7 linked regions of the Homo sapiens genome follow. The protein of the gene in region 2 interacts with the protein of the main gene of each other region in a pairwise test. Each region holds a gene or a part of one and is shown on either strand. Other genes may lie near its edges. The genes, in order: DYNLT3, BMP2K, SH2D4A, DLD, ZER1, SIRT2 and FAM120A.

The links.
Region 1: the proteins of BMP2K (region 2) and DYNLT3 interact in a two-hybrid assay, tested with the Homo sapiens proteins (one large-scale study listed by IntAct).
Region 3: the proteins of BMP2K (region 2) and SH2D4A interact in a two-hybrid assay, tested with the Homo sapiens proteins (one large-scale study listed by IntAct).
Region 4: the proteins of BMP2K (region 2) and DLD interact in a two-hybrid assay, tested with the Homo sapiens proteins (one large-scale study listed by IntAct).
Region 5: the proteins of BMP2K (region 2) and ZER1 interact in a two-hybrid assay, tested with the Homo sapiens proteins (one large-scale study listed by IntAct).
Region 6: the proteins of BMP2K (region 2) and SIRT2 interact in a two-hybrid assay, tested with the Homo sapiens proteins (one large-scale study listed by IntAct).
Region 7: the proteins of BMP2K (region 2) and FAM120A interact in a two-hybrid assay, tested with the Homo sapiens proteins (one large-scale study listed by IntAct).

What each region holds. Positions count from the first base shown.
Region 1 is NC_000023.11:37,838,336-37,841,453, forward strand, and holds the end of DYNLT3 (dynein light chain Tctex-type 3), read right to left. Parts: intron 2,771-3,118; coding exon 2,693-2,770; intron 2,317-2,692; coding exon 2,240-2,316; 3' UTR 501-2,239; downstream 1-500. UniProt on the Homo sapiens protein: Acts as one of several non-catalytic accessory components of the cytoplasmic dynein 1 complex that are thought to be involved in linking dynein to cargos and to adapter proteins that regulate dynein function.
Region 2 is NC_000004.12:78,914,608-78,916,865, reverse strand, and holds the end of BMP2K (BMP-2-inducible protein kinase), read right to left. Parts: 3' UTR 501-2,258; downstream 1-500. UniProt on the Homo sapiens protein: May be involved in osteoblast differentiation.
Region 3 is NC_000008.11:19,358,693-19,362,192, reverse strand, and holds part of SH2D4A (SH2 domain-containing protein 4A), read right to left. Parts: intron 991-3,500; coding exon 879-990; intron 1-878. UniProt on the Homo sapiens protein: Inhibits estrogen-induced cell proliferation by competing with PLCG for binding to ESR1, blocking the effect of estrogen on PLCG and repressing estrogen-induced proliferation. May play a role in T-cell development and function.
Region 4 is NC_000007.14:107,894,183-107,897,682, reverse strand, and holds part of DLD (dihydrolipoyl dehydrogenase, mitochondrial isoform 1 precursor), read right to left. Parts: intron 1-3,500. UniProt on the Homo sapiens protein: Lipoamide dehydrogenase is a component of the glycine cleavage system as well as an E3 component of three alpha-ketoacid dehydrogenase complexes (pyruvate-, alpha-ketoglutarate-, and branched-chain amino acid-dehydrogenase complex).
Region 5 is NC_000009.12:128,751,428-128,754,927, forward strand, and holds part of ZER1 (protein zer-1 homolog), read right to left. Parts: intron 2,533-3,500; coding exon 2,382-2,532; intron 2,174-2,381; coding exon 1,737-2,173; intron 1,423-1,736; coding exon 1,246-1,422; intron 101-1,245; coding exon 1-100. UniProt on the Homo sapiens protein: Serves as substrate adapter subunit in the E3 ubiquitin ligase complex ZYG11B-CUL2-Elongin BC. Acts to target substrates bearing N-terminal degrons for proteasomal degradation with the first four residues of substrates being the key recognition elements.
Region 6 is NC_000019.10:38,893,119-38,896,618, forward strand, and holds part of SIRT2 (NAD-dependent protein deacetylase sirtuin-2), read right to left. Parts: intron 1,038-3,500; exon of another isoform or gene 750-1,037; coding exon 701-749; intron 410-700; coding exon 296-409; intron 1-295. UniProt on the Homo sapiens protein: NAD-dependent protein deacetylase, which deacetylates internal lysines on histone and alpha-tubulin as well as many other proteins such as key transcription factors.
Region 7 is NC_000009.12:93,556,185-93,559,684, reverse strand, and holds part of FAM120A (constitutive coactivator of PPAR-gamma-like protein 1), read right to left. Parts: exon of another isoform or gene 3,327-3,500; intron 3,304-3,326; coding exon 3,094-3,303; intron 1,859-3,093; coding exon 1,675-1,858; intron 1,105-1,674; coding exon 967-1,104; intron 1-966. UniProt on the Homo sapiens protein: Component of the oxidative stress-induced survival signaling. May regulate the activation of SRC family protein kinases. May act as a scaffolding protein enabling SRC family protein kinases to phosphorylate and activate PI3-kinase.

The sequences.
Region 1 (3,118 bases), on a different chromosome or scaffold from region 2:
TTAATTATGTTGTAATGGTAAATACTGGATTTGGGCTGCTATTTTAATGGTATTTATTCTGCATAATATGCATAATATATCTATGTGGTCCCATATTCATTTATCCTATTTAGAATTGCTTTCTTTTTTCTTTTTTTTTTTTTTTGAGACGGCATCTTGTTTTGTTGCCCAGGTTGGAGTGCAGTGGCACGATCTCGGCTCACTGCGATCTCCGCCTCCCGGGTTCAAGCAATTCTCCTGCCTCAGCCTCCTGAGTAGCTGGGATTAGAGATGTGTGCCACCACGCCTGGCTAATTTTTGTATTTTTAAGAGAGATGCGGTCTCACCGTGTTGGCCAAGCTTGTCTCAAACTCCTGACCTCAAATGATCCACCTGCCTCCCAAAGTGCTGGGATTACACAGGTGTGAGCCACCACCCCCAGCATTTCTTCTATTTAGAATTTCTAAGAGCAAGCAGAATGTCATTTCTCTAACTATTAAATGATTATCCAGAAGCAAAAGTACAGCACAGGAAGATAATATTTATTATATTTTAACTAGAAACAGAGCAGATAGCAAGTTCACCAGGTAAAAATTTTTTTTCTTAAATTATGCTTAAACAACAATAATAAAAAACAAGTCTGCATGTATATTTTGGTCACTATTATGATCTTCCAGGGCACAAAAGCCAGCAGCATAAAGAAACATGAATAATGACTGAGAATTTTTGATGTGCCAAAAACAAAGATCACTGCATTAAACTCCTTTATTTTGTTAATATTATTCTTAAACATTGAACAATTATTAATTATTGTTATTTGGCAAAATATCAAACATGCACATAGTATTCCTACAAGAATATTGCCTTAATATTGTCAATATTAACGCTAAGCTTATTCCTCTCCAAAATTCAATGAGTTATGGTTCCGCTCTCTATATGTATTAGTGTTAGTGGTAATATGCAAAACTGATTTTGTTTTCAGGGTTAAGTAGCAGATTGACTTCGCATTTGGTGGCCAGCTGTGTACCCTAATTTTTCATCTATTTTCTTAATAAATTTAATTACATTTCATAAGCCCTGAGATAACGTGCTAAGGATTGTATACTTTTAATCTATACTTTATTCCACTCAATTTGAACCCCACATAATAAGTCTTTTAAGTTATTTACAGATGGTTGTAACTAAAGCAATGACAAAATTTACTACTTGTATAGGTAAGACTGATAATAAGGCCTTTAACTAAGAGTTGCATATTTTATATGCACTTTTAACTTGCTAGGAGCAACTCTTAAAATTACATCTATAATTCTGTCAGAAAGCAATAAGTGCTTTTCATTTTGCTTACTTCCATATGTGTAACCAGATTCACTTTTTTCCTCCCTTGTAAAACAACTACTTTCTTTTCCTTCCCCAAATATTAATACGTCTTCCAACTGAACAATTGCTAAAAGGAACTTAGCATTTGCACAGCACATTGACAACTATGGTGCTTAGCAGAGACATATGCCCATAATAGGCATCTGATAAATGTTTGTTCCACATGGAATGAGTGAATTGTAAGGCAGCTGTTTGAGTCATACACTGTTCATCATATACTGCAACTAATTTTATTTAACTAGGAAATTCAGTTTACCAGATTTAATTTACCCTCAAGTGTAAATCCAAAAATTTGAAATTAAAAAAAATTGATTTACTAATCCTCAGAAAAAGTAAACAAGTTAATCATAGTTGTTACTATACTATTAGTTGATAGAAAATTAAAAAAATTATTACTTTCCACTAAATATTAAGTACAACTGAGGGGAAGAAAGTTTAAAAAAACTTAAAAATGTTAGCTAATTCTCATCATTTTCTCCACATTTATCCTTGCAGCTTTTTTGTTCATATATTTATTCCTGTTAACTTCTCTAGCTGAAAGAGAATTTTATTATCTGAATGGAGTTCCCCATCACCTTAGGTACAAAATATTAGTGAAAAGCTGGTGTAAATATAAGATTGTATTTTCATGTCATGCCATATTTCTAAATTTATTTTTTGCTAGCATTAAATTTTTCCTATTTAAACGATGCTGTATAGAATATGAGCTAATCTGCCAATTACTATGATATTGCTTGCTTATAATATTCAGTTTTTGTTGATAGCTTTAAAGCATATTGCACGCTTTTCATCTAGCACACTAGTAAACAACTATTACTCTTTTTGGAAAGGATACACTGACAAATTCTTAAGTTAATGGCTTTAGCCCAACATTTTTAGTCAGTTAAAGAACAATAGCAATGGCAAAAACGTTGACAATACAGTTCATGGTCCGGTTCTCCCATCTTACGGTACAGGTTCCTGAAACACAAAAAAAGGATTTTGAAATACCAGCAAAACATAAAAATTATCAGAGAATATATATATATATATACACACACACACACACACACACACATATACACACACACACACACACACACACACACACACACACACATATATATATATATATATACACATACATTTTTCACATGTTTTAATATCTTATTTCCTTCAACCTGTTAAGTTTTCACATTTCATATCGGTCTGAAGGTATACTTGTTACTAGGTACAAAGCAATACTGTTGATAGTCTTTTCAGAATTTAATCAGAATTAAATAAGTACTTGGTTAAAAAGTGCAGTTTGACTTTGCTAAAAGTTGGATTTTGTGTAAATCAGCTTAAGATCTCTTACCATCAGATGTGGTATCCCAAAAACAGGAGCTGGCTGTGTGAAAGCCATATGCGCTCTTCTGGACCACTGCACAGGTCACTGCAAATAAAGTCACAGAATGAGGGCACTTACAGACAAAGGAAAAGAGAACCAAGGTCAAAGTGTGTGAGTTCAGAGCTCTACAAGCCGAAAACAAGACAAAAAACAAACAAACAAACAAAAAACAGAAAACAAAGCGTTCAGCAAATAGATTGAAAAAAAAATAAAAGACTCTCATCTTTATCTACCATCATGATTTTGACCCCACTGGATTCAGTTGGTTTTCTGACCATTGTCATTACCATTGGTGATTGTATTGCAGGAAAAATATCAGTCAAATTCTGTGCTTTGTACCATGGGCAGAATTCAGACACAGAAATGCAGGAAATACTCCACTTTATAAACAGT
Region 2 (2,258 bases):
TGCCAAGCTTAGTCCATCAATCCAATAAATAGGTTTTCTCTTTAATGTGTCATAGCCTCTTTTCTGATATAATTGAGGATTACAATGTTATTTAAGCAAATAACCAGTATTAATTCAGCCAAAGATGTTATCAGTTTTAAAGATTTTTAAAAATTTATAATGTGGAAGCTGTAAAATAAGTTATTCAGAAGGCACTACACAATATTGTTTTTGCCTTACTGTCATCACTCGAGTATCAGTAATTATGACTCACTGAAAAAGTCGTGCTATTAAGTGTTCTTGTGGCAAAAACTCTTAAGTCAAATGGGTTTTCTTACCTAAATTGTAAACTCTGAGCTCCTTAAGAATAGGGATCTAATCTTAGCAACTTTTCTATTCCACTAGCTGCTACATAATAGGTGCTTAATGTTTGTGGTGTGAATGAAATAACTGAATTTGAATAGAAGTTTACATCCAAAAGTCATAATAAGACAAATAATGAAAAACTCCAAAGTCACTGATTATAAAGAATATGCAATCCATTTGGGATTTATTGCATTTAAAGAAAACAGATTAAAACAGGTATGATAAATACAGTAAGAAAATAACTTTAAATTTCAAACAAAACAGTGAATCAGGGACAGAATTCAGTCAAAAAGAATAAGCAGTGTAAAGGCAATAAAGTAATAAAATCAGTTAGTGCTTAATTAGATATGGCAGGGGAAAAGGGGTGGGAGGGGGAGACTGAGTCTATCTCATAATTGTTTCCCAGCTATATTTGAGGACTGAAGTTACTTTAGCAAGTATGTTTTGTAACAAGTAGAAATACAATAAAGATGTAAATTTGCTTTATTTAAAGGTTAAAGTTATTTGCTTAGTGGTACATAAAAGGCTTCAGAAAATTCAAGTTTAACAAAAAATGGAAGTGTAATCAAAGAAAGTGCACTTAAAGCTGTTTGCCAGCAATTAAAAAGTAGCTTCTATACAGCTTCTATTAGATGACTTTTCAATCACAAAAAGAGCATAGTCATAAAAACAATTCTTTCAAAAGTAGCAGTATAAATTTTAAAATAAAACAAAAATAACCCCAAATCATGACCCTTTGCATTATCATCTACCTTATTCTCTTAGTAGCTTTTGTAAACCCTCACTAGGAGTGAATGTTCTCTTAGATATGATTGTGGTTGCAATTCCATTTTTTAAAAATTCACATTAACTCCACAGTAGAGAGATGTGACATGCATGTGTGTACATATTTTTATCTTAATATATAAAACACCACTGAGTATAAAAGTTCTCAAATAAACTATTCATCATTTATGGTATTCTCACAGTAGATATGTCATCTCATTCTCACAGTAGACTGTCAACTCAATAATTGGACCTAAAATAACAAGTTTGCTAAAAAGAAAAAAAAATGAGAAAAAAGTTTACTGCACATTCTAAATATATTAAAAACAAATGTACCCAAGCGCCTCAAAACTAGTGATATTAATACACTTGTACCTTCTAACAGTGCTTACGTGAAGTACCAAAACCTAAAATAAACCAAGCAGAGTAGCTGACTTGTAAGAAAACTGCTCTGCCTGGTGAACTTCAGCATAGAAGAGTGGGCTCCACCTTAGATTTTCCACCAGCAAGAGGACAACAGTCTATCACTCTTAAACAATAAACAGGGTAAGACTGAAAGTTGTGTCTATTTGCAAATCCGGATAATGTCGTAACTATACCCAACACGTACACAGGGATTGGGGTAAGGGAAAATAATTACACTCCTGAATAAATGTTCTAGTCAGTTAAATTTTCATCCGGCCTACAACCTTTCCTCCTCCACCTATTATACTTACCATGCAATTTTTGTGTCTTAGCAGATACATTCTTCAATGCCATAAAAAGCTGATCTTTTTAATACTAACATTTTACTGACGTGATATTAAAATAAGCAAATGGTCCACTTTTTAAAGGATTATTCAAAATCAACAAGCATTATTAAAGCTGTTAAGAAACAACTTTGGCCTCAAGATTTTTGCTAGCTTCATAATAATTTACTTCTCTTAGTGATGTTCAAGTATAACAGGTTTAGTTATAACTACATCCTAAAGAAGCACAGGGGACACCCAAATAATATTAGGGAAAAAAAACCCCAAATATATATATATATATATATTTGCTTAGTGGTACATATATAATAACCTTTCTTCCTTCCTTAAACCAGAATTGAACCATCCCATAATAGAGCCAAACTTTTATTGAGTGCTGTGTGCCAGGTACTGTGTTAA
Region 3 (3,500 bases), on a different chromosome or scaffold from region 2:
AGTTGTCATTTAAATGGCATTGGTTGTAATGGGACTGCAGATCAATGTAGGATCTCAACATCCTGCAAATATAGCCATACCTGCTGTCTTCCTCAAGCCACCTCAGGTTGATCTAGCAGTTCAGATTTCTCTGAGTCAGATGGAAACACTAATTCTTTCACAAACCTAATTCTTCTAGCATTCTGGAGCATCCTCTCCTCTGCCTTCAGTTGCATGGGCTTATTCTTCTCCTATGAGTTTTCTCACCCATTCTGCTCACTCAAATAGGAGTCAAGGCTGGGTCACAGGCAGGAGCGGGATGCTAACACATCCAGCCTGGTATTCCTGTGTGCTTCTGATTACAAAGTTAAAATGTATTCACTATCAAAAATTTAGGGGAAAAAAAATCCAAAACACAATATTAAATTACAAGAAAAACATTCAAATAAATAATCTTGAATCTCACCTTTCCAAGAAAACTAATGTTTACATGTTATTATAACCTTCCAGTTCTTTTCCTTCAGATACTTAGACATTTCTAAATAGCGAAGCTTTTCATTCTATTTCATGGTGTTTTTTCTTCCCCAAGCTAATGAGATATAAACAGTCTAAGATCATTAAACACTCTCCAAAACCTATTTTCCATAGCTATATATCATGCTATTTGATAAATTACATCATAATTTTGGTGATACAGAAATAAATGGAGAACGAGTCTGCTGTTCAAAAGTAGCCTGTAAGCATTTGAGTAATAAGTTAGTAATAACATTTGAGTGGTAACTTACTGTGAACATATCTCTCAACAACCCACATTAAGCGCTTTCTAGATTGATCACATTATTAAGGGAGAGAATCAGCTGAGAGCCTGGAAGGTGCTATGGAGACCTCTGGGTACTCACGAGATGCCTGCCATTCCGAGTCTTCTTTCCAGCTCTTACAAATCTGCTTCGTTCTCTCTTCTTCTATTTGATTTATTTCTTCATCTTGTTTTTTCTTCATAGATTCTTTCTTCTGTTTAAAAACAAAACAAAAAAAAACAAAAACAAAACAAAACAAAAAAAGAACCTTGGTGAGCAAATCCAGCAGTTTCCTGAAGGACGGGGTACCCGGCACAGCTGACTTCTATCTAACTCTCTGGCCCACTAGGAAGGATCAAGTGTGGACTTTGGAGTCAGTAAGACCTGAAGTAAGACTGACCATTGCTAGCTAGTGTGTAACTCCAGGAGCAACAAATGAACCTCTCTTGGGCTGTTTCCCCATAAGAAAGATGAGAAAAAAATATTTCTTAGGGTTATATTGAGGATTAGATAACTTAAGAAGTCCCTGGCACAGTGTATAACATATAGTAAGAAAAAATATTCCTTTTCCTCAGACACAGTACTTAGCTGCTTCAAACTGACTCCCTGAAGGATGTAAACACACTATTACATAGAACTAGCATCAACCTACTTTACAGTAGCTGACAGACTCCACAGAAGAAATGCACATTCCCAGAGCAATCTCAGCTGAATCTCTCCCCCGAGTCATGTGTCCCAAAATGTGGTACTTACTACATGATTTTAAGTGTTTCAAAAGAAATATATATCATTATTATTTTTTTAAGATGGAGCCTCACTCCTTCGCCCAGGCTGGAGTACAGTGGTATAATCTCGGCTCACTGTAACCTCTGCCTCCCAGGTTCAAGCGATTCTCCTGCCTCAGCCTCCTGAGTAGCTGGGATTACAGGCAAGTGCCATCACACTTGGGTAATTTTTGTATTTTTTGAAGAGATGGAGTTTCACCATGTTGGCCAGGCTGGTCTCGAACTTCTGACCTCAAGTGATCCACTGCCTCAGCCTCCCAAAGTGCTGTGATTACAGGCATGAGCCACCACACCCTGCCAGAATATGTATTTTTTTGTTTCAAAAAAAAAAAAAAACAGAAAAATATTTTTCAAAAGCATCTTTTGAGAAGGGAGAAATACTTTCAAAATGTAAATATTCCTTTAAAAGGAGAATTAGGTTTTTAAAACTTAGGGTAAAATTCCACATAACAAAATTTACCACCTTAACCATTTTTTAGTGTACTGTTTTCTGGCATTAAGAGCATTCAACGGAAATCATTTTAAACGAAAGAGAAATGAACAAACCAAATCACTTAGACCTGAAAAGTACTTTGCTTATTTGGACACAACCTTCTGAGTGCTCACAAGACGACTGAATTTACAGTTTGGTGGACTAATAAAAGCCTTGGTTAGCTAAGCAATAAAACAAACTGAAATGGCCAGAAAGGGCTGCCTGTGCCCACCTCTCTATCACAAGTGACAAGCTTTTTAATTTTGTGCTTTCCCACAGAAATGTAAAGACTTCCTTGCTATTATGTCACCACAACGTAAAGTATAAACATTAATATTGTGAAACTTGTTTCTGATCGCTCTGGGCAGTCATAAATCACAGTTCAAGTAATCATCATTCATAAATTGTGCTTCACTGCAGATGTAACTAAACTTCTGTGCATTTACTGTTTTCATTTTTTTTTCCTTACACTGTTTTCCTGCCTAGAGCTAAGCTCCTTTTGTTTGCCAACATTTGAAAATCCAAAGGACAGCTTTGATGTTTGAAAGGACTGTTAAAATTTGCCATCCTTTGATTGAAGCTGTTTGCCAGCCCAAGATAGATACATGTGCTGCTAGCAATTTCTAAGCTTAAACAGAAAAAGCTTCAAAGTGGAGCTTTGTTCATCCTTCCACATGCATACGTGTTTATTTTTAAACGGTTAGGAAACATATAGTGAAAACATCAAGCTATGATCATCATGGATATTGTTGCTGAGGATAAGCAAGAAATTTGGAACATGACATGATTCTACCTAAGAAAAAATATTAATAATAACAGATGTAGTACTTGGTTGATGTTACTCAAATGTCTAACAGAGCTATATTTAATAAATCTACTCCTTTAATCTGCATGTAATTATGTACATGCACAGTGGAAAAGAAGAAAAATTAACGAGTTTCACAGAGTAATAGCAGATGAGATCTGCTATTACCCATCTATATACGGCCCTGACCACCGTATTTATTCAAGAAAGCTAGAAAACGTAAGGAACTTGTCCTGCGTCTCTGAGAGAATTTTACTTTTATCAAAATCTGTAATGGTTTACTTTCTCTATTCAGAAGACCATCATTTCCTTTTCAGCAGTGTTTTGCTGGAAGCATGTTGGACCAGGACTCAGGACTGTCAGCCAGGCATGGGGAAATCCAGGTGATGGCTTGGAGTGGAGGGGCGGAGGGGCCGAGGCTGGATGCTAATCCAGATGCCCAGGGTGGAAGGTGTGGAGACCCAGATGTGTGGTGTGAGCTGTGAAAATGTGTTCAGCTAACAGTACCAGAAAACAAGGGCACGCTGGGCCCATATAGAAAGCCGCTGGGCCCGTTCAGAAAGCCTCTTGTCCAGCCTGTTGATGGAAGCACTTAGAATGCCTCCCCACCAATTCCTTCATCAGAGCCTCACAAGTGTCCCCAAAGGAGGATGCCTCTGTTT
Region 4 (3,500 bases), on a different chromosome or scaffold from region 2:
CTCCTGAACCCGGGAGGTGGAAGTTGCAGTGAACCAAGATCGCACCATTGCACCCCAGCTTGCATGATAGAGTGAGACCAAGTTTCAAAAAAAAAAAAAAAAAAAAAAGTCAGTCTACAATAATACCTACCACTTGGGTAGCTTAAAATGTGCCAGTTAGTGAGCCAGTCACGTGTACTGTCTTATGTAAGCCTCATTACATTTCTATGACATAGTTTAATACTACCATTAACAGAGGAAGAAAAGGTTGAAAACAACTAAATAATTTGCATAAGGCTACACAACTAGTAAGTAATCTAGCCAGGATTCAAACAAGGTCCTCTAGATTCTGAAATGTGTGCTCCTATATACCATTATGTTCTATTGCCTTCCAAAACACTCAGATGATCCCATAATCTCCAGGACAATCAAGAACTTCAACTAAAATGACAAGAATATGCTTTACAGAATGAAATCAAATATTTATGACTCATCAGTACCTTCAATAACCTTAAAACACAGTGAGAAAAAAGAGGCACATGTCAAAATAAAGGTAAAATCAGATTTTTGGCCAGGCGCGGTGGCTCATGCCTGTAATTCCAACACTTTGGGAGGCCGAGGTGGGTGGATCCCCTGAGGTCAGGAGTTCGAGACCAGCATGGCCAACATGGTGAAACCCCATCTCTACTAAAAATACAAAAATTAGCCGGGCTGGTGGCAGGCACCTGTAATCCCAGCTACTCGGGAGGCTGAGGCAGGAGAATCACTTGAACCCGGGAGGTGGAGTTGCAGTGAGCCAAGATCACGCCACTGCACTCCAGCCTAGGGGACAAGAGCGAGACTTTGTCTCAAAAAAAAAAACAAACAAAAACAAAACCAGATTTTTAAAAAGAAAAAACGAACAGGAAAAGAGATGTCATAAGGCAATAATCATTAATTACCAAATTTACTGAATGTAAGAACTACTTGATAAGGTTTATTTGTTGACATTTTGTTGAGGGGTAAGGGAAGTTGTTTTTACATTGTCAATGGCCTTAATATCCAGTCTTTTTCAGTAACCTCCTCCCATAGTTAACACTCTATACTTGTTATCACCCAAAACTGTTCAGCCTCTGAAATCAATACTCTACTTTCTAGTCATAACCTCCTGGTCCCTAAAGAAGAAATATAGTAAAATAAGAAATGATCTGAAGTAAAACAGACCTGGGTTCCAAACTCTAACCCCGTTAAGTTCTTGGGCAAATTACTCAATCTCTCTGGGCTTTGATACAACATGGGGGTAATAGTAAGGATGACACCTGCAGCCTAGGGTTGTGAGGATCAGAGAGTACGCATGTTAAGATCCTAAGGAGGTGCTAGGTGCATACTAGCAACTCAGTGTCACTCCCCTTCTCAGATCCACCTCCAAACTTCAGTCCAGCAGCCTCTAGCCTCATTCACATCCTCCATTTTAGCCTACCCAGTGCTACCGCAAAGCTAAAACCCAACTCAGATGTTATTCTCTCTGTTGTTACGCTCTGTTGGTTCTCCAGTGTCTTGTTAGATAAAGCCCATGTTCCTAAGTACAGCATCCAAATTCCTTCAGTAACTATTTCTCCAGCCTCATCTCCTACCACGTTCTGTTTACTCACCAATACCATGCAGTTTAAGCTTCAGTAACGGTGAATTACTACTCTTAGCCTACATGCATAGAATTATGCTGGTCTACCTATGTACGATCTGTTCCATCTACCTAGAAATAAACACTAACAGCAGGCATTTCACATTACAAACACTACTTTAGGCTCTTGGAGGGGTGTGTCTGCACATGCTGTGTCTGTGTGTGTGTATATATAAATGACATAGCCCTATTTCTTACAGTCTAAATAAAAAAAAGAATTACAGTAAAAGGTCCAACCTGTAACGAGAGTTACTCTCAACCTTTTTAGCTATCAACATAATTCCTTAGGAAAGAATTATGTGACCATTCCCAATCCATATATAGATGTCATTACTCCCTATGCTTAAGTCTATGGACCCCTGTCACAATTATATGTTGGATGTTTGTCTCCCTCAACTGAATTGTAAGCTCTATAAAAGCTGGGTCTTGTCCGTCTTGCTCACTGCGGTACTCCAGTAGTTAGCCCAATGACTAACACATAGTAGATATTAGTATTTGTCGAAATAATAAAAGAATGAATGAATGTAGTGAATGTGAGTGATATAAGTGCTGTAAGTTTAAGTGTTACAAGTTTGATTAAGTGCTGTCATGAAATAAAACGTCACATCAACAGTAACACACACAACTTTGCAAATTCTGATGAACCTGGTTCATAAGGCTATTCAGACATCTCTCAGATGTTGTAACCAAGACTATATCATAATAAGATTTGAACTCCTCAGGAGAGTCAATCAATACTCATGTAAGGAAGAAAACTCAATAAAACATTAACAGTGTAGGCTCTGAAGTCAAAAGGATTCTCCCAGCTCTGTCATTTCCTAGTTAAAAAACCTAACTCTTCCATCTATAAAATGGGGAGAACAGCAGCACACAGGTAGTAGAAAGGCCATGAGGATTAAATCTGTGCCTGAGACAGAGTGAAGCCCTCAATGCATCAGTTAATATTATTGCTGTTGTAGCTGGTTACTTACTTTGTACAAGACACCATACTGGATGCTTTGCCACAGAGCAGTAATTAAAACAGACCAGGCCCCAGTGTTCATTCATTCAATAAATATGTACTGATTACCTACTGTATCACTTTAGATACTAAACAAAACAGTCACACACAGTCCCTGTCCTGATGAAGTTTGCATTCCTGAGGAAAAGACAGTAAGCATGTACCTCAGATAAAATACAAGTATGTGTGTAAAATGCTTGTTACTGCATCCACTCAAAGCTTTTACACACTTTACACACATGGGTACTAAGTGATTTATGATTTACTCAATGTCAAGGGATCACCAAACTGATTATGGAACACTCAGCCTCATTCCACTAAAATCTAAGTTCTGGCTCAGGGTCTGCCTGGCAAATAGAAGGCACTGAATAATCTCTGCTGAGTGATGCCAAAGGTATAGAGTTAGCCATGAAAAATATCCTTTAGAAATGAAAATCTAACATTTCTCCTGTTATATGAGTTGAGAAGAATGAGATTCCTATTTAACAAGAGACAAAGTGTATAAGAGGTCCAACTTTTCCCTTCATCATCATATTAGCATTTTTTTAAAAGGATTTCTTGACCTGTTCAAAGCTAGAATAAATCACTCACTCACTGTTAGTCATGGGTTACTAGAATCCTCCCCCTACCCTTCCTCTAGAAATAAAATATCCAAAATGATAATGGTTGGATAACAGTTGAGGATACAGGATTAAATTACTTCACAGAATGCAGGGAGACTGATAGTCACAGTTTGCCCAGATAATGATTTCTATAACTGAAGCTTTAAGACATCCAATGTTACTTATAATCCATATGGGTGAATTCAGTAAATGTCAAAACAGTACATTGCAAATAATCAATATCCTTGGTACTGACAGG
Region 5 (3,500 bases), on a different chromosome or scaffold from region 2:
GTGCGTGAGGCGGCACAGAGAGTTCTCAAAGAGCCCGAGGAACTGCAGCGGCCTCTTCAGAGCCCGGAAAGGTATGATGCTGCTCTTGGAAGGCTCAATGCTGGGGAAAGAGGGTGCCGGTGTCAGTGGCTTGGGACCCAGGCCTGAGCTGGGCCTCCCCACTGGGGGTGGTGAGGCATTTCCTTGCTTTCTCTTCTAGGCCCTCCAACCTCATCCCCTACTCCTTTTGTTTTTAATGGTAGGGGACATAAGCACCACCTCCTGATGGAAGCATGGCAAAGCCACATAGTAGGGGAACACATAGGATGGGCAATGCAGCCACCTTTAGAAACCACCTGCCATTCTAGTAAGGACATGGCACCTTTAGGTCTCACCAACAATCACAAAGGGACAAGCTCAACTGAACACCATTAAAGCAGGCTGGGGCCAGGGCTTATGGGTGGCCAGTTACAGCTGGTAGGGTTTGGTCAAACTTCTCAACCAACCAATCCAAGAACCGACCTATGTCCAGCAATACTCCATAGGTGGCAGACACTGCCAGCCTTGCCTCTTCCCCCCATGGCACTGTGCTCTGGTCAGGCTGAGTGTTGGGTAGTTCCCCTGTCGCTCCTCATGCTCTCACCTACTGGCCTTTGCAGGTGCTGTTCCCTCTGCTAGAACACGCTTCCTCTGGCAGAGGCAGAATGAGCTTTCAGGACAGCCAGGATGCGTCCCTCCTCCTCCTTCCTTCCTGATCCTCAGGCCACACCGGGGCCCTGGATTGCCCCTACCATAGCCCTTGTAATGACTTGATTGTCCCCACCAGCTCACACAGCCTCCAAGAGGGCAGGACCTGATTTGTTTCTTTATCTCTAGCACCCAGCACAGCACTTGGCAGAGGGGTACTTGGCAAATACTTTCTTTTTTTTTTTTTTTGAGACAAAGTCCCACTTTGTTGCCTAGGCTGGAGTGCAGTGGCGCGATCTCAGCTCACTGCAGGCTCCGCCTCCCGGCTTCAATTCTCATACCTTAGCCTCCCAAGTAGCTGGGACTACAGGTGTCTGCCACCATGTCCAGCTAAATTTTGTATTTTTAGTAGAAATGGGGTTTCACCATGTTGGCCAGGCTGGTCTCTAACTCCTGGCCTCAAGTGATCCGCCCATCTTGGCTTCCCAAAGTGCTGGGATTACAGGCGTGAGCCACTGCGCCAGCCTAAATGCCTGTTGAATGACACCCTACCAGTAGCCATGGAGGCTGGGGCCCCACCTGGTCTGCCCCGCTTCCTCTTCCATCTTGGAGATGCTGCAGTTCTCTAGGATCATGTGGCCAGAGATGTCCAGGGACATTAGGTTCCCCAGCTTCTGCACAAAGAGGCTCAGCACCTCCCGAGTCAGCTTGAACTTGTAGTAGCTGGAGAGGCGGTCTCGGGAGATGTCCAGGTGTCTGAAGATTGGGGTAGGGGGTGCAGGTTAGGAGCTGGGTACAGGGTGGGGCTGCCTTGCAGATCCCAGCTCCTTTAGTCTGTAGCAGGGGAGGGCCCATTCCTGCCACAACTTCCCCAGGGCATTCTGGGAAGAAACCCCAAACAGCCCCAATCCAGCTGAAACACTGGGTTTAAGGAATGGGACTGTGTCTTCATCCCCACCCTCTGCCTAGCCAAGCGCTCCTGAACCCTGAGGGCGTGACAACACCCACCTCTACTCCTCCCCACCTGCCCCCCAAACCCCACCCTGGTGAGCTCTGGGCCAGGAGCTCACCGCAGCTTGTGCAGCTGCACGATGACCCGGATGTGGTCGTCGGACAGGTCCATGTTGTAGAGGACGAGGGACACCAGGCTGTCTTTCCACTGGGTGAGGAAGGCGGCGTCGCTCGTCTGAATGCCTGAGAGGTCCAAGGCAGCCAGGGAGTTAAGCGGCCGCAGCAGGGACTCCACAGGGACCCAATCAATCATGCGGCCCAAGTTGAGGAAGCGGAGGCGGCTGAAGCCCTCGAAGGTGAAATCCTTAACCAGCACCTGGCAGGTGGGGTTGACGAGGTACTCATCTTCACAGCCCCCTGGGTTCTCCTCCTCATAGAAAATGTTTGTACAGCCGAAGAGGCTCAAGGACACCAGGGTGTGGCTGAAGCTCCTCAGTGTCTGCAGGCTCTTGGCGGACAGCTTCTCGCAGTTAGTCAGGTACAGCTCCACCAGGTCCTGGGAGTGGGCACAGCTCCATCATCATCACCACCCTTGCCCCTTCCCCCGGCCCCAGGCCTTGCCCTGGGCTACAGGTGGGTTGGAAAGGGGGATGTGCACAGTCACGGTGCACACTGGCTGGGCTGGGGATGGCTGGGCTGGAGGCGAGCAGCCTGGCCCCTGCTTGGTGTGGGCCCTCCTGGCGCTGTGGCGGGGCAGGTCTCACCTGCTTGCGGATGGCCTCCAGGTCCTGGTCCTGCACCAGGTCCTCACGGAGGTGGATCCGCGTGAGGCGGGTGCTGCGGGGGTCCGAAAAGAGGCTGAAGAAGCTCTCGTGTGGCTCGAAGTTACAGGCAGCGTTCACCAGCTCCACATACCTGGGAGAGAAAAAAGCCTGGCTCAGGAGAGGGCCACAGGGACTCTCATCCTCGCTTCAAAGCCAAGCCCTCCTCCCCCTGAAGCTTTCTTGGATCACCCCAAGTAGCAACCTCCTTCTCCTAAGAGTATCTGGTCAGATCCTGACTAAACTACCAGTAAGATTAAGGGTGCCCAGGAACCAGGAATCTAAAGGCAGCTCTCTGGGAGACCTTCTAGGTGATGCAGGCGCCATCTCTCCCAGTGCACATGCCTGTCACACAGCCTCCACGCACGCACACTGCAGGGGCAGCAGCCCCACTGGCATGGCCACTCTCGTCACCTTCTTTAAGCCCCTCCTGCGACCCTTTTAAACAGGCAAACTAAGCCAAGTAGTTCAGAGTTCCCAGCTGGGTACAGGACAAGCCCTTAATGAAGCCCTGTTGAGACATCAGCTCATGCAAGAATCCTGGTCTGCTGGGAAATGCTTTGGATTCAAACGCTTTAGACTCTAAATCTTGGCTTGGCTGCTTCCTACCTGGGCAACTTCACACAAGTAAATGAACTTTCCCAGACCTCAGTTTCTTCATCTGTAAAGTGGATATAACTATGGCCTGCAAAGTGTCCAACCTAAAGCCTGACCCACGGTAAATGCTCAGGACGTTATTACAGGTCCACCTCTGTCCTCAGGCCCACACAGGCTTCTAGTTTCCTATGCAGCTGTCTAATAATTTCCCTTCTGGGAATCTTTTTCTTTTTTTTTTTTTGGTAGAGACAAGGTCTCGCTATGTCACCCAGGCTGATCTTGAATTTCTGGTCTCAAGTGATCCTCCTGTCTTGGCTTCCCAAAATGCTGGAATTACACGTGTGAGCCACCATGCCTGGCCACCATCTGGGCCTGTAGATTGAACTCCCAGCATTCAGTGACTGCATAGCATGCTTCTAGGAGCCCCTAGGAGTGGGGAGGCCCTCGGAGGGCCATTCAGATTTT
Region 6 (3,500 bases), on a different chromosome or scaffold from region 2:
CTCCTAGGCTAGTGGAACCTGCATTTGCAGCTGCCAGGAGTTACCTTTACCCCAAAACAAGAAAAGCAGCATCAGAGAGAGTTATGATTTTTAACAAAGTGGAAGCACCTGGACCCAGCCGTGCTTCAAGCTGGATTAGAGCCAACACACTCCTTTTTGGCTTAAGCCAGTTCCAGCTGGGTTTCTTGCTACTTATAAAGAAAAGGTTTCAATAAATGGTTCAAGTGGCTGGGGATGGGAGGTCACTTGGGGCCAGGAGCCAGGCAAAGTGGCCCAATCCTGACAGGGGACTCACAGCGTTCGCTCTGCATGTACCGGGCCACCCCTTCCAAGGTCAGCTCGTCCAGCAGACGCTCCTTCTGGCTGCCCAGGCTGAGCGTCTGGGAGAATAAGTTCCGCAGGAAGTCCACTGACCGGAAAGAAGAGAGACAGCGGCAGGACGGGCATTCAGCCAGGGGCATGGATGTCTCCGGCACCCTGGCCCCAGCCCTGGGGTTCCCGGCCTCCCCACATCTAAAGGCACAAGGCCCGGCCCAGCCAGCGGCCTCCAGGAGCCTGCTCTGGCACTGGTACCCAACCCACTGCTACATACTTTGGATGTCACTCCTGATGGAGTTGAGGAGGTATCACCCACACCCCTGCCCTGAAATCCCCCCGCCCCCCAGAACCCTGCTCCCTGTCCCTCCAGGAAGATACTCACTGTCTGCTTCTCCACCAGCGGCTCCTCCCTCAGAGTCTGAATCTGAGTCCTGGAAGGGGTGGGGTGGAGTGGCCAGGCCCGAGAGGTGGGATTAGGGAGGGAGGAGAGGGGGTGATACCAGGTTTGGGGAAAAGGCTGTGGCAGGAAGGTGGCCTGAGGAAGTGCGGGGTGGTGGAGAGACTGCACTGGGGCTAGCTCCAGGGCTCTGGGACAGGCTGCCGGGGTTGGAGTCCTGGCCATGCCCGTCCCCAGGAGCAAGACCTCATGTGAGTGGCTTTGCTTTGCTTTTCTTTTTTGAGACAGTGTCTCGCTCTGTTGCCCAGGCTGGAGTGCACTGGTGCAGTCACAGCTTGCTGCAGCCTCAACCTCCCAAGCTCAAGGGATCCTCCCACCTCAGCCTCCCAAGTAGCTGGGACCACAGGCACGTGCCACCATGCCAGGCTCATTTTTTGTTTGTTTGTTTGTTTGCTTTGTAGAGACGAGGTCTTCCTCTGTTGCCCAGGGTGGTCTTGAACTCCTGGGCTCAAGCAAGTCTCCTGCCTCGGCCTCCCAAAGTGCTGGGATTACAGGCGTGAGCCACTGTGCCTGGTCGTGACTTTGATTTTCTAAGTCTTGGTGTCCCTCACCTTGGAAAGGGAGCTTGGGTGCTGGGCGCAGCACCAGGGGCGGGGGAAGTGCTTGGTAAGCGCTGGCTGTTGCTGTTATTATCACAGCCTGGGGTCTTCCCTTCGTTCCCGGGTCCCCTGGAGCGTGGGCCTGCTGTCCCTTCCCAGCAGCCCTGGGGGCCTCTGAATAATGTCCCAAGTCACTCTGGGAATGATTCCAATGCAAAGCCTTGGCCCTCACTTCAAGGACCTATGTGCCCCCTGCTCGAGGCCTCAGACACTCTGCCCACCTCTCCAGCAACCTCTGTCTCCTTCCTCGAAGCCTCCCCTCAGCCCAGCTCCAGACTGGCAGGTCTCTGGGACTCTGTCCAGGGCCTCTCTGCTTTCTCTTTCCACTTTCCTGGGGTTACCTGTCTCATCCATGCCAATGACCTCTGCCTCGTCACTCATGATACCATCTCTCTGCCCTCAGATCCGGGGTTCCCTGGCTTCCTGGACACCTTGCCCTAGGTGCCCCCCAGCCTCTCACTCCTACTATGTCCCAAATGGACCCTGGCATCTCCTCCAAGCCCATCCTCCTCCCAGGCCTCATCTCAATGCGATCGTACTGTCCCCCCCATCAGCCAGATGTTTCCTGCCCCCGCCTCCCTCCTCGCCCTCCTGCCACAGCCCTTCAGCTCCAGAGCATGTACGCTGAGCCTCCTAAGGGTCTGTCCACCAACCCCCTTTCCCTCCCCGGCGCTCCACCTGGTCCAGCCTGTCCTCTCCTCCGGGGGTCCTGCCCCAGCCTCCTCCCCCAGCCTCCCAGCCTCAGTCTCCACCTCCCATCCACCCTGCTGCCCTGCATGTGAGGCTGTCTGGGTCAGCTCGCCCCTCTCCACTTCAAAGGCCCTTCTCTCTGGCTTCTGCAGTCTTCCCAGACATCTATGGAATTGCCAGGATGTCCACAAGGGCAGGGACTTTGTCTGGGTGCCCAGCACTGAGAACAGGGTCTGGCTCCTGGCAGGAGCTCCAGGAGCTCCTCTACCTTGGAATGAATGCCTGCTTCAGGCTGGACCACGGCTGGGCCCTGCAATGGATTTCACCAAAATGCAGTTCTGACCAAGCCACCACCTCAGACAACTCCCTTCCCCGGATACTCACTGCTCTGCGTCCAAGTCTTTTTGAATAAGACCCTCCCTTCCGAACATACGACAATTTAAAAAATTGCTTTTTAAGACTGTGCAACTCCGGCTGGGCGTGGTGGCTCATGCCTGTAATCCCACCACTTTGGGAGGCTGAGGCAGGAAGGTTGCTTGATGCCAGGAGTTCAAGACCAGCCTGGGCAACACAGTGAGACTCTGTCTCTATTTAAAAAGAGAGAGAAAGGCTGAGCACGGTGGCTCACGCCTGTAATCCCAACACTTTGGGAGGCTGAGGTGGGTGGATCACGAGGTCAGGAGATCGAGACCATCCTGGCCAACATGATGAAACCCCGTGTCTAATAAAAATACAAAAAATTAGCCAGGCATGGTGGCACGTGTCTGTAGTCCCAGCTATTCAGGAGGCTGAGGCAGGAGAATCGCTTGAACCTGGGAGGTGGAGGTTGCAGTCAGCGAGATCACCCCACTGCACTCCAGCCTGGGTGACAGAGCGAGACTCCGTCTCAAAAAAAAAGAGAGAGAGAAAGAGAGAGTGAGAATGAGAGAGAGAGAGAGACAGAGAGAAAGAGAGATTGGACAACCTCTGCAAAAACCTTGATTATACTCATGTATACTTCAACAACATATAACTTGCGGCACTCACCTTGTAATTGCCCAAGCCCACCCTTATAAAGATAACCACTGTTAGCTAAGCTTAATGGAAATTACTCCAGTTTTCTCTGCATAAAACTAATATTTTTTACAGAAATAGGTCATAGTACAATACAACATCTTGAGTTTTCGGCAGAACAATATGCTACAGACCCACCTAATTTAAAAAATAATTTTTTAAAAAAGAGACGGCATCTTGCTATGTTGCCCAGGCTGGTCTCAAAACTCCTGGGCTCAAGTGATCCCCCTGCCTCCCAAAGTGCTGGGATTACAGGTGTGAGCCACCGTGCCCGGCCTCACCTCGTTTTTCAGAGCAGCTACATAGTATTGGATTGTATGGATGAACCATAGTTCATTTAACCCATCCACTGACAGCCATTTGGACTGTTTCCAGTTTTGCCC
Region 7 (3,500 bases), on a different chromosome or scaffold from region 2:
GAGAGGAAACATGGCTGCGAGCTGCATGAGGAGCAGTCACAGAGCAGAGTAGCACACTGCAGGAGGCTGGTGGGCAGACAGAGGAGGCAGAGAGGCATGCAGCTGCACCAGGGAAAGGAGAGGTGACCTGCAGACAGAGGGGCTGACCCGTCGCCAAATCTGCAAGTCACCTTTCCGCACAGTTCCCTTGCTGGCCTCCCTAACTATCCCATGTAACTGAGTTGGAAAAACATTGTTGATCAAGAGAGAAAGGCTTGCCCATCCTCAATGCAACTCCAAAATCACATCTGAACAGTTAATCCTGTTATGTGACTTGATGGGCAGATTTAGATCTGCAGTCCCAAAATGTGGGATTAGGACAAAGATACAGGTCACTGACTTCCAATTACAGCACCATCACAAGACATTGCTTCCTATGCTAAATGTTAAGACCCTTTTCTCTTTTGCAAGCCTAATACAAATGCAAAGAGAAGCACTGGGAATCTACAGTAAACTGCCTTGTTTATATGCCCAACATTAGATCTTTGTTTAAAAATGTTTCTGCGAAACAAACTGTGACAGACTTTTTATGTCAGGAATTCTGTGACCATTAGCATTTTCTATACAAGCATGATAATCTTTACCAAAAGATGGCTGCTTGGGAAAGAAACGCCACTATTAGCAGCTCATCCTATGAACACGAGGCGATGGTCAGGTTACCCAGGTGCACAGAAAGGTTCTGTTCTAGGTGGACACTCAGTGGTCTACCCTGAAAGGAGAGACTGGCCACAGCAGAGCCGCTGCTGAGACCTGAGAGCAGAGAGTCTCAGGAGGAGTGGTCAATGAGGGTCAGAGCGGGGACCCAGAAGAAAGGCCGTTCTGCTGGAGGAGGGGCTCATGAGGACAGTAGAGGAAGGAAGGCGCCAGACGATGGAGCGAAGGAAGTGCTGGCAGGCAGAAGCTCTGGGAAGGGGTGGGTATAATTACCGCCCTGGGACTTGCTAGTCCTGCTGCTGTCACTGCCTGAGAAGGCTCCGCAGTGTCCCGATGCTGCCGCCACACGGAAGGCACGGTAAGGGCCTGTTGCTACCGTTTCCCCATAGGGGCCTCCAAAGCCACAGACGCCTGTGGGACCCGGGGTAGAGAGAGAGGGGAGAAGTGTAAGGGACAGGACTCAGGGCCCTGCTGGGTATTCAGGCAGAGTGGCCCCTGCCTCCTCCAGCTGCCATGGAGGGGTCTCCTGGCCCCTCTTGTCACCTCACTGTCCTGTGCCCATGGTCCCTGGGGACCAGTATTGTAAGGCCACCCTCCCTGCAGTGGGTCATTCAACAGGGCACTAGCATGGGGCTCAGGAAGGGCCCTGGGAGATGAGTCCTGGAAGATGGCTCTCTCTGACCTGGGTGGGTTTATTTTCCCTTACACATGAGAAACAAATATATCTTAAAATGTGAGCAGAGTTTTCAGCTTGATTGACAGATTTTACGGTGCAGCTTTTGCATCTGCATCAGCAGGTCCCTCTCCCCTATCTCCAGGATTAAACTTGCTCCTCACGGACTTGAAGAACTGCTGCTGCAGGATCTCCAAGACCAACAGTGACAAGGTCAACACAGCAGATGGGCTTGCCTATAAGGGCTGCACTTTCTTTACAGGAATCTGGCATCTGTTACCCACAGGAATACGTCCCAATCAACTCACCTGCAAAGCCTCTGCCCCTGCCCTGAGAGGGTGGGACAGGCCCAAAGTGCCGGGGGTACGCAGAGGCAGGGTAGAAGGGCAGGGCAGGTGGCGGCGGGAAAGGGAGCGTGTGGCTCTGCCTGGAGAAGCTGAGCCCCTCGAGGACGCTCTGGCGCATCTTCTCTACCTTGGCAGCCTGATCAGCCTGGAAGACAAGGACCAGCATGTGAAAATGCCATCCACAGGGGGTTTTAATTGAATTTAAATGAGCACTAAAGAAATAAGATCTATCAACTATACAGTTGGTTCCCTTTATTCATGAATTCTATGTCTGCAAATTCTCCTACTTGCTAACGTTTATTTGTAACCACAAAAATCAATACTTATGGCAGTTTTCTGGTCGTCTGCAGACTTGTGCAGAACACGGCAAAGATTTTTGTTGCCTGATGCACTGACCCCAGCTGAGGTCAAACAAGACAACGCTTGCCTTCTTGTTTCAGCTCATACTGAAAACAAGAATCCTTTTCACAGTTTATTAAGTGCCACGTGTTTCACATTTTTGTCCTTTTTTGTTGGTAATTTCACTGTTTAAAATGGTCCCTGGCTGGGTGCAACAGCTCACGCCTGTAATCCCAGCACTTTGGGAGGCCAAGGTGGGTGGATTGCTTGAGGTCAGGAGTTCAAGACCAGCCTGACCAACATAGCAAAACACCGTCTCTACTAAAAATACAAAAATTAGCTGGGCATGGTGGCAGGCACCTGTAATTCCAGCTACTAGGGAGGCTAAAGCAGGAGAATCACTTGAACCTGGGAGGTGGAGGTTACAGTGAGCTGAGACCGCACCACTGCACTCCAGCCTGGGCGACAAGAGCGAAACTCCATCTCAAAAAAAAAAAAAAAAAAACCAAAACAAACAAACAAATAAAATGGTCTCCAAGTGTAGTGCTGAAGTGCTGTCTGGTGTTCCTAAATGCATAAGGAGGCTGTGATGTGCCTTACAGAGAATATACGTGTTACAGAAGCTACTGGCTGTGAGTTCAATAATAATGAATCAACAATCCATATTATATAAGGTGTCTTTAACGAAAATGCACATGAAATAAGATTATATACTGATTGGTTAACAAAAATATGTGACCAGAGCCTTGAAGGAACCCAGCACCTTGTATTGCCCCTAGGAGCAATGGTCAGTATTCACTAATTTGGCGTTCAAGGTGAATTTTAGAACATTACTACCACAAATAATGAGAAACAATGTTATATCAGGAGCTTGGCTCATCCTGGGTACTGAAGTGATATTTAGTGACACTCAGTACCAGGCCCAACCTAAAACAGAATCTTGAAACACAGGATGATAAATATGGTATAAAAGATGACAGATTTAACCAGTGAGCTTTATTTCATTGCAGTTAAAGGCAGCCACCCGGCCCCGCAGCATACCTGACCATCACAGAGGTCAATGAGTGGGGTCTTTTCCCGGCTGGCTTTGAGGAGTTTGGATTGGAAGAGCTTCCCATCAAAATACATCCAAGGACAACAGTGTTCCCAGGGGATTGGCTGTCCGCATGCATCATTTGCAAACAAGGCCATGTCTACTCCACTCATGAAGAGAGCTGATAGCTGAATTCCTCGGGGATCTAGGTTCTCAATCTTTAAATTGAAAAGAGTAATTTCTATGGAATAAGAGTACTACAGTATTAAATTCTTTCAAAGTCTTAGTAAAACTCTCCAAAGTTAACAGAATATTCCTCAACAAAACAGCACCACTAAGTAGTCCTACCATTACCTTATATTGACCTAACACTGGCCTCATTTGAACAGAAATACTTATGTGATTTAACACATTT